Linked DNA regions of Homo sapiens. The protein of the gene in region 1 interacts with the protein of each later gene in a pairwise test. Each region holds a gene or a part of one and is shown in the gene's direction. Other genes may lie near its edges.

Evidence for each region.
Region 2: the proteins of SASH1 (region 1) and KIF3B interact in a two-hybrid assay, tested with the Homo sapiens proteins (one large-scale study listed by BioGRID).

What each region holds. Positions count from the first base shown.
Region 1 is NC_000006.12:148,541,807-148,545,464, forward strand, and holds part of SASH1 (SAM and SH3 domain-containing protein 1), read left to right. Parts: intron 1-1,873; coding exon 1,874-3,012; intron 3,013-3,658. UniProt on the Homo sapiens protein: Is a positive regulator of NF-kappa-B signaling downstream of TLR4 activation. It acts as a scaffold molecule to assemble a molecular complex that includes TRAF6, MAP3K7, CHUK and IKBKB, thereby facilitating NF-kappa-B signaling activation.
Region 2 is NC_000020.11:32,319,127-32,322,784, forward strand, and holds part of KIF3B (kinesin-like protein KIF3B), read left to right. Parts: intron 1-3,658. UniProt on the Homo sapiens protein: Microtubule-based molecular motor that transport intracellular cargos, such as vesicles, organelles and protein complexes. Uses ATP hydrolysis to generate force to bind and move along the microtubule. Plays a role in cilia formation.

The sequences.
Region 1 (3,658 bases):
TCAGAATTTGAGCCATGATGCCCTGCTATTCAAGGTTTTCTATCAACTTGGGAAGATAGTAGTTCTCCCCAAACTATATATAATATTCAGATAGCCTCGGTCAAGACAGGATGCAAAACTCACCTAGTATCCCAGTACATCCTCAGTTTCAGTAAACATCAGAATCCTTATGTAGCTCATGTAGGTTCTGAAGAATTTTTTTTTCTCTTAATAACCTTTTCATATCCAAAACTTTTCAGGAAATTAATTCCCCCAACTGTTGGTGATTGGTAAGGATCTCACAGATATCACTGGCAGAATTTTTCATGCCCAAATGAATTCAGGTGTACCTGCTGAAGAACTAGATTGCTAGCGAACCATACTTTGAACTCAAAGTAAGTTCAGGGATCTTTCTAATGTAATGCAGAATGCAAAAATGGAACTTATATATATAGTTTTATATTGGGAGTTAAGGGAAAAGAAAGTCATATTTCTAAATTTATGCTAAAGAGGTTCTAATAATTTTCTATTTCAACCCACTTTTAAAATCTGATGCAATTTTTTTTTTCTGAAGAGGTATTTCTTCATTTATCTGTGATGATTTTTCTTTTCTTTTTATGAGGCGGAGTCTCGCTCTGTCGCCCAGGCTGGAGTGCAGTGGCGCGATCTTGGCTCACTGCAAGGTCCACCTCCCGGGTTCATGCCATTCTCCCGCCTCAGCCTCCCGAGTAGCTGGGACTACAGGCGCCTGCCACCATGCCCGGCTAATTTTTTATATTTTTTATGAGAGACGGGGTTTCACCGTGTTAGCCAGGATGGTCTCGATCTCCTGACCTCGTGATCCACCTGCCTTGGCCTCCTTAAGTTGTGATGATTTTTCTAATAATGAAAAGTAGGACCATGGTCAATATCTTCAGTAGTAGCACTAGGCTGATGATCTTTATGTAACAACAATAATATCCTACAAATGCATAGCATGTTGGTGTTTATCAGTGTGGAACATACAGGTGGACAGGGTCAAAGCACACAACAAACATGTTATCAACCAAAAATGTAACAAGGGACAGTGTGTGTGTGTGTGTGTGTGTGTGTGTGCGCGCGCACATGTAAGTACTGATGAGAACAAAGCATTCAGCACATTGTCTGGCCCATGAATTGTAAGTTCTTGGCAAAGCTTATCCAACAGCAGCAGTTTAGTATCAACTACCAGTCGTCAGATAAGTAGATTATGTCTGGTTGATAGTTCAGTTATCAGTCTGGCAGTTGTAACTAGGACTGTTGCTTTGCTGGGACCTAAAACTTTATCAGTATTTTGTAGATTTTCTTTGGCAAAGTACTCACAAAAGTTTACCTGTCTGTGTCCAGGTTGGTTGATTGCTTCTAGGATAAACTTACTAGAAGGAGGGGCTTCAGGGAAGGTGGGATTTGAGTATTCACAGATCACTCTGTAGGGGATACCATTTATAGAACCTGTTGTGAAATTCAGTCCAGCTCTCCTTTTCCATCATGACCTTGAGAAATTGTACTCACCCAACAAATCTCATCAATATGCGGTATGATGATCAGCCTCTTTCCACGTCGATTGCAGTGGGGCACAGACTTAAGCCAAGATTTATTTTACTGCTTGACACAGCGTATTTCTTTCCCATGTAACCCAATTAATTTCAGTCTTCATGATTCCTTTAATAAGACTAAGAATTCTTTCTAAAAATAAAAATGGAACCATAATAACCCTCTATCACCCGATGTCATAAATGGTGATTTTATGTTTTTAGTGTAATTGAACAATAGGATGTGGGTGTTGGAGATTTCAATTATGTTAGCACAACTTTATGCATCCGTTTGATTGATTTGCTTTTAAAATGTGATTGTAAAATATTCCCTTGTCTCACAGGCAAGACTCGGAAAGCTAGCCTCCTATCTGCCAAGTCATCCACCGAGCCCAGCTTGAAGTCTTTTAGCAGAAACCAGTTGGGCAATTACCCAACATTGCCTTTAATGAAATCAGGGGATGCACTGAAGCAGGGACAGGAGGAGGGCAGGCTGGGTGGTGGCCTTGCCCCAGACACGTCCAAGAGCTGTGACCCACCTGGTGTGACTGGTTTGAATAAAAACCGAAGAAGCCTCCCAGTTTCCATCTGCCGGAGCTGTGAGACCCTGGAGGGCCCCCAGACTGTGGACACTTGGCCCCGATCCCATTCCCTGGATGACCTTCAAGTGGAGCCTGGTGCTGAGCAAGACGTGCCTACCGAGGTGACAGAACCGCCCCCTCAGATTGTACCTGAAGTGCCACAGAAGACGACCGCCTCTTCCACGAAGGCCCAGCCCCTGGAGCAAGACTCTGCTGTCGACAATGCATTGCTACTGACCCAAAGCAAGAGATTTTCTGAACCTCAGAAATTGACAACTAAGAAACTGGAGGGCTCAATCGCAGCCTCTGGTCGCGGCCTGTCACCCCCTCAGTGTTTGCCCAGAAACTATGATGCTCAGCCTCCTGGAGCTAAACACGGTTTAGCAAGGACGCCTCTGGAGGGCCACAGAAAAGGACACGAGTTTGAAGGAACACACCATCCCCTGGGCACCAAAGAAGGGGTAGATGCTGAGCAGAGAATGCAGCCCAAAATTCCATCACAGCCTCCACCTGTTCCTGCCAAAAAGAGCAGAGAACGCCTTGCTAACGGACTCCACCCTGTTCCCATGGGCCCCAGTGGGGCCCTCCCCAGTCCCGATGCGCCATGCCTGCCAGTGAAAAGGGGCAGCCCCGCCAGCCCCACCAGCCCTAGCGACTGTCCCCCAGCACTGGCTCCCAGGCCTCTCTCAGGGCAGGCGCCTGGCAGCCCACCAAGCACAAGGCCGCCCCCCTGGCTCTCAGAGCTCCCCGAGAACACAAGCCTCCAGGAGCACGGTGTGAAGCTGGGCCCGGCTTTGACCAGGAAGGTCTCCTGTGCCCGGGGAGTGGATCTAGAAACGCTCACTGAAAACAAGCTGCACGCTGAAGGCATCGATCTCACGGAGGAGCCGTATTCTGATAAGGTATCAAAGGTCCTGGGCCCACCACGTTCACAGGCCTTTGTTTGTAGAAGTCAGGCAGCCAGGTGAGATGAACCCACATCTGAAGCCAGCCCGGTAGCCCGCCCAGTGGACAGGAGACACCTGAATCCACGTGTCCACACCTTACTTGACATGCATGTGTTCAGATATTGACACCACCCCATTTCATCTCTCCGTAGGTAAACCGAGGTTAAAAATAACCTGCATGAAGACCTCTTAGAGGGATTACTAGGAGCAAATAAAATAAATGTGGACAAAAGAACCCTATTCAGATGTGATAATTGTATTATACAGTTATCTGTATGGGTAATGGGAAAAAGATAATATAAAATCCCCCATTGTACCAAAAACATTTAGCTGTATAATGAAAAATTATTTCTCATTCAAAAAAAATGAGATCTACCAATACCAAGTGACTCCAAAGACAAAGCAATGCTAACAGATACAGCAGTACTTTACTCCTGGAAATACAGGTCCTATTAGGATGCATTCCTGAGAGTCCTTTATTATAAAATTCTCATGACAATGAATGCCTTAGAATCAGATCCTCCTCCACCTCTCTGACCCTCCTTGATATTTCCTGAGTGAATGTCTTTAAATGAAAGGTAGTGAGAAAGACCATACAGTA
Region 2 (3,658 bases), on another chromosome or scaffold:
ATTTTTGTGTTTTTTGTAGAGATGGGGTTTCACCATGTTGCCTAGGCTGGTCTCAAACTCCTGGGCTCAAGCAGTCTGCCCGACTTAGCCTCCCAAAGTGCTAGGATTACAAGTGTGAGCCACCATGCCCGGCCTCTCCACATCCTTGTCGACACTTGTTATTTCCTGTCTCTTTTATCATAGACATCCTAACGAGTGTGAAATGGTACTTCATTATAGTTTTGATTTGCATATTTCTCTGATGACTAATGATGTTGAGCATCCTTTCACGGGCTTATTGGCCATTTGTATGTCTTTGGAGAAATATCTATACAAATCCTTTACCCCATTTTAAAATGGGGTTGTTTCATATATATATATATGTATATATTTCGTATATATATGAAATATATATATTTCATACACACACACACACACATATGTGTATATATATAGTTTTTTTTTGTTTTGTTTTTGTTTTTTTTTTTTTTTTTTTTGGAGTTGGAGTCTCGCTCTGTCATCCAGGCTGGAATGCAATGGCGTGAACTTGACTCATTGCAACCTCTGCCTCCTGGGTTCAAGCGATTCTCATGCCTCAGCCTCCCGAATAGCTGGGAATACAGGCACCCGCCACCATGCCCGGCTGATTTTTGTATTTTTAGTAGAGATGGGGTGTCACCATGTTGCCCAGGCTGGTCTTGAACTCCTAACCTCAGGTGATCCACCTGCCTTGGCATCCCAAAGTGCTTGGATTACAGGCATGAGCCACCATGTCCAGCCAATAATTAAGTTTTAAGAGTTTTTTTTGAGACAGAGTCTGGGTCTGTCACCCAGGCTGGAGTGCAATGGCATGATCTTAGCTCACTGCAGCCTCTGCCTCCTGGGTTCAAGTGATTGTCCTGCTTCAGCCTCCCGAGTAGCTGGGACTATAGGCATGTGCCACCATGCCCAGCTAATTTTTGTATTTTTAGTAGAGACGGGGTTTTACCATCTTGGCCAGGCTGGTCTGGAACTCCTGACCTCAGGTGATCCACCCGCCTCAGCCTCCCAAAATGCTAGGATTACAGGCGTGAGCCACTGTGCCCGGCTGAGTTTTAAGAGTTCTTTATATTAATATATTATGAATACCACTTTCTCATGAGATTCATGATTTGAAGATGCTTTCTGTTATTCTGAGTTGTTTTTAAACTTTCTTGATGGTATTACTTATAGCACAAAAGATTTCCGTTGTGATATAGCCCAATTTAATTGTATTTTCTTTTGTTTATTTTACTTTTGGTATTGTATCTAGATTTGCCTTTTCTGGACCTTTCATATAAGTTTATAAATGAAATAATGTTGGAATAATGTGGCCTTTTGTGACTGCTTTCTTCATATGTGTGTGTGTGTGTGTGTGCATGTGTGTGTTTTGTTAGTTTTTTTTTTTTTTTAGAGATAAGGCCTTCTTCTGTCAATCAGACTGGAGTGCAGTGGTGCCATCATAGCTCACAGCCTTGACCTCTTGGGTTCAAGTAATCTTCCTGCTTGAGCCTCCTGAGTTGCTAGGACTTCAGTTGCATGCTAGCACACCTGGCTAATTTTTTAAAATTTTTTCATAAGGATGGGTCTTGCTGTGTTGCCAAAGCTAGTATAGTGTTTTCAACAGTCTTCCATGTTGTAGCATGTATCAATACTTTATTCATTTTTTATGACCAAATAATATTCTGTTGTATAAATATACCACATTTTATTTATCCATTCATTATTTGATGGACATTTGGGTTATTTCTACTTTTGGGTGTTATGAATAATGCTGCTGTGAACATTCATATTCAAGTTTCTTTTGTGGACGCATGTTTCATTCTCTTAGATCCTCTAAGAGGCTTATAGTGTTAGGTCTTACATTTAGGTCTATGATCCATTTGAGTTAATTTCTGTGTATGGTATGAGGTAGGGTTTCAAGTACAGTGTTTTGGATGCAGATATCTAGTTGTTCCAGCACCATTTGTTGAAAGGGCTTTTCTCTCCCATTTCATTGTCTTGGCATACTTATTGAAAGTCAGGGCCGGGCGCTGTGGCTCATGCCTGTAATCCCAGCATTTGGGAGGCCGAGGTGGGTGGATCACCTGAGGTCAGGAGTTCGAGATCACCCTGGCCAATATGGTGAAACCCTGTCTCTACTAGAAATACAAAAATTAGCCAGGTGTGGTGGTGCACACCTGTAGTCCCAGCTACTCAGGAGGCTGAGGCAGAGGAATCCCTTGAACCTGGGAGGTGTAGGTTGCAGTGAGCTGAGATCATGCCACTGTACTCCAGCCTGGGCAACAGAGCAAGACTCTGTCTCAAAAAAAAAAAAAAGAAAGTCAGTTGACCGTAATTAAGCATTTATTTATTTATTTCTGGACTTTCAATACTGTTCCATTGTTCTATATATCTATCCTCATGCTAGTACCATTCTGTCTTAATTACTATAGCTTTGTTAGTTTTGAAATCAGGAAGTGTGAGTCCTCCAGCCTTGTTCTTTTTCAGGAGTGTTTTGACTGTTCAGGGTCCCTTGCATTTCCATATTCAAACATACTTTGTTTTACTGCACTCTGCTTTGTTATAATTCACAGATATTACATTTTCTACAAATTGAAGGTTTGTGGAAACCCTGCATAAAGCAAGTCTGTTGGCACCATTTTTTCAACAGCATATGCTCTCTTCATGTCTCTGTGTAAGCATTTATTAGCAATAAAGTATTCTTAAAGTCTATACTTTTTGTAGACAAAATGGTATTATACATTTAATAGACTACAGTATAGTGTAAGCATAACTTTTATATGCACTGGGAAACCAAAAAATTGTGTTACTTGCTTTATTGTGATACTTACTTTATTGGAGTAGTCTGGAACCAAACCCACAGTATCTCTGAGGTATGCCTCTACATTTTAAGGTCAGCTTGTCAATTTCTGCAAACAAAGCCAGCTGGGATTTTGATATTGATCACATTGAATCTGTAGATCAATTTGGGCAATATTGTAATCTTAACAGTATTAAGTATTCAGATCCATGAACATGAGATGTCTTTCCATTTATTTATTATTTCTTTAATTTTTCTCGAGAATGTTTTGTAGTTTTCAGTGTATAATTCTTACACTTTTGTTAAATTTATACCTAAGGGTTTTTTGGGTGCTATGGTATATGACATTGTTTTCTTAATTTTATTTTTGGAATATTAATTACTAGTATATAAAAATACTGGCTGGGCATGGTGGCTCACACGTGTAATCCCAGCACTTTGAGAGGCCCAGGTGGACGGATCACCTGAAGTCAGGAGTTTGAGACCAGCCCGGCCAACATGGTGAAACCCTGTCTCTACAAAAATACAGAAATTAGCCAGGCGTGGTGGCGGGTGTCTATAATCCCAGCTACTTGGGAGGCTGAGGCAAGAGAATCGCTTGAACCCTGGAGGCGGAGGTTGCAGTGAGCCGAGATTGCGCCATTGCACTCCAGCCTGGGCGACAGAGCGAGAATCCGTCTCAAAAAAAAAATTTTATATATTTATATATATTTATATATATATTTTTATATATTTATATATATATTTATATATTTATATATATTTATATATATTTATATATTTATATATATTTATATTTATTTATTTATATATATTTATTTATATATATATTTATATATATTTATATATATATTTATA